Regions from separate parts of the Homo sapiens genome. Here region 2 is linked to region 1. The links come from fine-mapping of genetic effects on gene expression. Tissue or cell type: whole blood. Region 1 holds a variant in brackets; the other region holds the start of a gene. All regions are shown on one strand. Distances are between the middles of the regions.

Region 1 (2,907 bases):
CATTGCAGCACTTACTTAACCAGGAGCAAGCAAAGTTCAGGCCCTGTGGGGAGGACAGAAGCCTGCCTAACATTCTGTCAAGGCAAAGGGGAGGGTTGTTTTTCTCAGTGCACCCAGAGGTGACACCCTAAATGGATTGGAACCAACAACCTGGGGTTACAAAGTGCCACACACTGTGGAGAATGGGGACCCCAATGTCACTTAGAATAAAATCCAAACTCTGTGCCCGCCAAGGCCTACATGATCTAGCCCACTCTGTCACTCCTGGCATTCTCCCACGCAAGCTAGAACACTCTAGTGCTTCTGCCCCAGGGCTTTTGCACTTGCTGGCCCTCTGCCAGAAATAGTCTTTCCTGAAAAGACCTCTTTTGTCTTCCCTACAGTACTAAGCATGCAGAACCACCAACACTCATCTACTGTCTTAGACTTGGAAGCTCATTCAGCTCCCAGTTGTGCAAAGCCTCTGCGACTATGTGCAATTGTATATGGAGATCAAGCCTCCTCCACAGTCTCTGAACCCGTAAGACTCCCGCACTCTACAAAACGTTCTTAGCAGCACGTGATCAGGAGTTACCGCCTAGCTCAAGGTGTCTTCCACCTCTTTTTTACCTTAAAGCAATATTCATGGCAGCAGATACCAAGATGTTCTAGGGTAATCTTTGGACAGTCTCGGATCTCACGGTTGCAGTAAGTACAGATCCCTCCAGTTGTCCTGTGAGATGAAGAACAATAACCCGGTGGTCAGGCTGGTGTACAGACCTCTGATGTGACACAGCCAGACCTTCCAATTTGGTGCAGCCAGGCCCAGGTTTGCTGTCAGGATCCCCAGGATGCCACTGTTTTCTGTGGTGTGCAGCACAGCCCTGGGCCAGATCAGTTCTCAGCCTGCTGTAGACCTCTGCATTATTTCCAAAAACTAGTCATGCATCTTTTTCCAGCTCACAATGACATGTCTCCTGTAGATGTCCTGATATGATACTTATTCCAGACAGTTTGCCTCCCCCTGACCTTCTGCTTAGATTATCCGCTGGGGCCTGCTACCCTCTAGAGCAGGAAGACCAATGCCTTCTCCTACAGGAGACATGTCATTGTGTGCCCTGCCTGGCCCCGTCTTGATGGCCCTTCTCCTCACGCCTGGGCCAACTGAGCTCTGCCCCTGCCTATACTCCTGGACCCACCCTTCATGCTCTGTCTGTAGAGCCTACTCAGATCCGACACTGAAGTTCTAGATACTGACTCCTGGGTTGAGCATCTTTCCAGTTCCAGGATGCCTGTTTCTGAGAGTCACCTCTGCTTTTCTTCCTCAGACTGCACTTCCTCAAAGTAACTGCTTGATCTGATCCT[A/G]CAAGCCAAAATTCAGGGTACTTTCTTCCAGAGATTTGGGTCTGCTTCTGACAGAAGCCCAAGGGGCGGGGGGACATTAACAATCTAGATCCACGTTAGCTCTGTCGGAGGACCCAGAAGTGTCACGGGCAGCTTGGGTGTGGCCCACCATCCTGCTGCTGGCCCAGGGTTCACTCTGGACAGCAGTGCTGCTTGAAATCCTTGCCCTCAGCGCAGCCCTGCTCCTCCTGCTTCTTTCACCACCAGCAGCACCAGCTCACAGCTGTTCTTTGTGTGCGTGCATGTGTGTCTGTGCATATGCATGTGTGCAAGTGACTGAGATTGTCCCTAGAGAGTCCCCTTCCTTCCTCCAAGCCTAGCAATGGATCAGTAATGACTGATTCTGGATTTAGTAGTTGTGCAATGGAAAGGGGGGTCCCTAGAGTATCTGGTTTGTCACTCCACTAGAATTGGAAGCCTCATTCCATTTGCTCCTATGTAAGTGGTTAACTCTCAGGTTTCTGACCAACCTGCCCTTCTCTGCTAAGACTTCATCTGCTGATGTGCCTCACCAAGTAATCTGTAGTTACTCAGAACCACCTGCTTCTTCAGCTATAGTGGAGGAGATTCCCTGGCCCCATATGCTTGTCTGCTCCTATATGTTTGCCTCTGGGGCCCGGTAGGATTCTCTTTATCTTAACCCTCTTACTTCCTTCCTTTTCCTCCCCAATGTAGCTTTGGTCTCTGAATGTCATCCACATGAATTAAGATCTGCCCATCAATGAGAAGCAAGATGGCAGAGTAGAAACATCCCTAACCTGGGAGTAGTCAGGGCCCTGGGGTTTAGTCCTGGGTCTGCCGTATTTGCTTACTGTGGACTGAAGGCTATTTATTCCATTTTCTTCACAGAAGCCTGAGTGAACTCAATCTCTGAGACTCTCTTCTCCCCATTCCAAGAATCTGAACATAAGATTTCTTTGTCATTAAGACTCTCTAGTGACTGTGCCATCATCTAGTGACAGCTTTCAAAACTGCTGAACGAGGTGTTCTCTGCCCCTGCTTTCAATTTGGTGGCTCCACAGCACTGGGCATTCTTGGCTTTGTGTGTCTTTCTGGCTTCTTGATGCCAGCAGCCCATTTTTCTTCCTTCTCTGCCCACTCCTCTCTTTTGTAGTCATTTTATTTTTACTTCTGGTTAGATTTGCAAGTTAATGAAGTGATTGATTAGGTTCTAATCTGAAGGGCCCCTCCTGCTGACACGAGTCCTCTGGGTTGTCAGATGCCACCACTTCCCTTCTCAGTCACCGCTGGTATCTACCCTCTAGTCTTAGCTCAATTCAAAGGCTTTAGTTGTCACAAGTGTGATATCCCAACAAGGGAAGCACCACCCTACGGTAGTGTCCTTCACCTTTCTGCAAATGGATTGGAGGCTGCAAAGCAGAAGACAAAAGCAAACAGACTCAGCAGGAACTCTCCCTTCCCTGATTCTCCTCTGTAGAAGTGCAAGCTCCGTGCTAAGAAAGTCAACATACCTCTCAGAGTATGGAGTGCTGCCACATGGAGGCTTCTTCTCCATGGCGAATG
Region 2 (2,907 bases), 25 kb before region 1:
TCCTGGCTAACACAGTGAAACCCTGTCTCTACTAAAAAATACAAAAAATTAGCCGGGCGTGGTGGCGGGCGCCTGTAGTCCCAGCTACTCGGGAGGCTGAGGCAGGAGAATGGTGTGAACCCAGGAGGTGGAGCTTGCAGTGAGCCGAGATCGCGCCACTGCACTCCAGCCTGGGTGACAGAGTGAGACTCCTTCTCAAAAAAAAAAAAAAAAAAAGACAGGCTCTCACTTTGTTGCCCAAGCTGGAGTGCAGTGGTGTGATCTGGGTTCACTGCCACCTCTGCTTCCCAGGTACAAGCGATTCTCGTGCCTCAGCCTCCTGAGTAGCTGGGATTACAGCTACTCAGCTACTCAGATTACACACCCAGCTGATTTTGGGATTTTTAGTAGAGACGGGGTTTCGCCATGTTGGCCAGGCTGATCTCAAGTGATCTGCCCACCTTGGCCTCCCAAAGTGCTGGGATTACAGGTGTGAGCCACCACACCTGGCTGAAGAAGGTGATATCTGCAAATATCTTTCTCAGTGACCATAAATTTAAAATGTTGTCCGCTTTTAACATATTTATTAAAACAGTACCAGAAAAAGCCTTTTCTTTTTTAATCACAGAGAAAGAAAAACAAATATATTCTGTCACTAAAGGTCCACAACTTCTGGCCCTGAAATGTAATCATAGGCTTCAGACCCTTGCTCCACACAGCCTGGGCAGGGATATGCAGCAAGTAACCTAGCTTTCAGTGGAACCATCCCTGCCTCAGATCTCTTCACGCATTTTTTTAAGATTACCAGGGGATTTGTGTGCACCTTGAAGTGTGCTACCTGTGCCGCACCCACACCCTTTTCTGGAACAGTACTTTCGGGCCGCTGCAAGCCGCAGGACCTTCCCTCTGTGGAAGAAACCTGCTTTGGGAAACGACAGGAAGCAGTTTGGGTACTAGGTGCGTAATGTTTGGTCGTGAAATCAGGAGAATAATGGGAGAATGGAATATTTTCAGTCATCTGGCTCTCAGTGAGCAGCGAAAAAAAACTAATGCCCTTGTGAAATGCAGGCAGTAGCTGTATTTTTTGCCCTCCTCCCCTAGAACAGTCCAATAAAAAATAAACGAGGGCTATGACTCGTTTATAAGGGCGCTCACGTGGCCTATACGTTGCACTGGGTGATTTGCACCCGGCCCTTCACCCATGGGCTTGGGACGCCACAGCTCCCCTCCAATGAGGAAGAGCCACAGTGGCTGCTGGGCCAAATGGCACGTGGCGAGCCTGGCTGCCACCGTCGTCGGCACGGGGGTGGGTGGGGTGAGGAACCACCTTGCAGGAAGTAGGAGGGTTTATGTCACCAGTGCGCAACCGTGAGCGGGCCGTGTGCAGTTCCGCTCATGGGGTAGGGGGGCGGTCGTCACCAGACAACCTCTTCCCGCCACAGCCTCGTGGCGCAGTCAGCACGGAGGCGGCAGCCGCCATAGACGTGTGGTGGTCGCGCTGCGCGGGAACTCCGGCTTGGAGGCACCTCCGGCAGGTACGGAGCTGGACCCCGGGCTCGGACAGCAACCCAGATTACGGGGGAACCCCCCAGTAACTCTTGCTATTTTCCACGGGGTCTAGGGGCTGGTGGCCATAGGTTTCCCTGGAGGCGGGATCCCACTAGATCACACCCAGCACGCCAAGGAATCCCTGCCATTTCCAGGCAGAACTTCAGGGAGACCTGGCCGGGCGCGGTGGCTCACACCTGTAATCCCAGCACTTTGGGAGGCCGAGGCGGGTGGATCACCTGAGGTCAGGAGTTGGAGACCAGCCTGGCCAACATGGGGAAACCCCGTTTCTACTAAAAATACAAAAAGTAGCCGGGCGTGGTGGTGTACGCCTGTAATCCCAGCTACTCAGGAGGCTGAGGCCGGAGAATCACTTGAACCCAGGGGGCGGAGGTTGCAGTGAGCCGAGATACGCTACTGCACTCCAGCCTGGGTGACAAAGCCAGACTCCGTTTCAGAGAAAAACAAACAAACTTCAGGGAGACCTATTCCACCCTTGACCTGCCCGGAGACACTGCAGTCAGGATAGTAGCTCTTGGCCCTTGCCCTTGAGGGAAAGTGGCTTCGAACCTTCCCCTCCTAGATTCTGCCTGCTTCCACTGATGTCGGTGGTGTGGGTGTATGTAGATAACCGGGTGGGGATTGGGGGGAGCAGGGGAATGGAGGTAGGGGATTTGGGGATATCAGTTAGACTTGCCTCGGGGTAGGAGTTGGACTTGGTGAGGGGGCAGGGCTTGGGGTAGGAGTTGGACTGTGGGTGGGGGCAGGGCTTGAGGCACGAGTTAGACTTGGGTGGTGGAAGGGGTTAGACTTGGTGGGGGGCTAAGCTTGGGGTAGAGGTGCAACTTAGTTATAGGCAGAGTTTGGCAGCAGGGGTGCAGGTTTTGAGGTGGGGCTTAGGAAGGGTTGCAACATGGCTGTAGGGGCGGAGCTTGGGAGGGAATGGAGTTTGCAGTGGGGGTAGGGCAGCAACCTTACCTTAGGATCCCTTCTGCCCTACCAGCAGCCCCCCTGCCCCCACCCCCTACCTCCCTCCTCACCTCCCACCCCTCTCACCATTCGTCCCCCGACTCCTCCCCCCGCTCCGCTCCCTCTGTCAGTTGAGCAGTTTCTTCTATCCCTGCACCAGGGTCCTAGTGAACACCTATGCAGAGTCTGAATTGGCATGGCCTGGGCAGGGACATGTGTGTGGGACAGAATCACAGCAAAATACCTCTGCTTTGCCTTGGACAGATCCAGTGAAGCAGGACCCATCACGCCTGAGTCAGGAACTGCCTAACTGGATAGAGTTGAAAAGCAGAGCGAGTCTGAAGTGGCTGTGTTATTGCAGCATCCGCGCTGCCAGCAGGGCCAACCCAGCAAGGTGAGCAGCTGTGAGTT

Evidence for each region. PIP is the estimated chance that this variant, and not a neighbour inherited with it, causes the effect. A credible set is the group of variants that fine-mapping cannot tell apart.
Region 2: it holds the start of PNMA5, and the variant in region 1 is the best candidate, but not a certain one, in a credible set for the expression of PNMA5 in whole blood (TOPMed, PIP 0.59).

The regions. Positions count from the first base shown.
Region 1 is chrX:152,967,187-152,970,093 of GRCh38, reverse strand. It overlaps ZNF185 (zinc finger protein 185 with LIM domain), which reads right to left. Exons shown (of 25, transcript NM_001395254.1): 22 at 2,856-2,907; 23 at 610-712. Among named protein-coding and RNA genes, the nearest start is that of PNMA5, 25 kb to the left of the region's middle. The variant A/G (reference allele first, on the strand shown) is at 1,345.
Region 2 is chrX:152,992,640-152,995,546 of GRCh38, reverse strand. PNMA5 (PNMA family member 5) reads left to right here and starts at 1,431. Exons shown (of 4, transcript NM_001184924.2): 1 at 1,431-1,514; 2 at 2,761-2,890.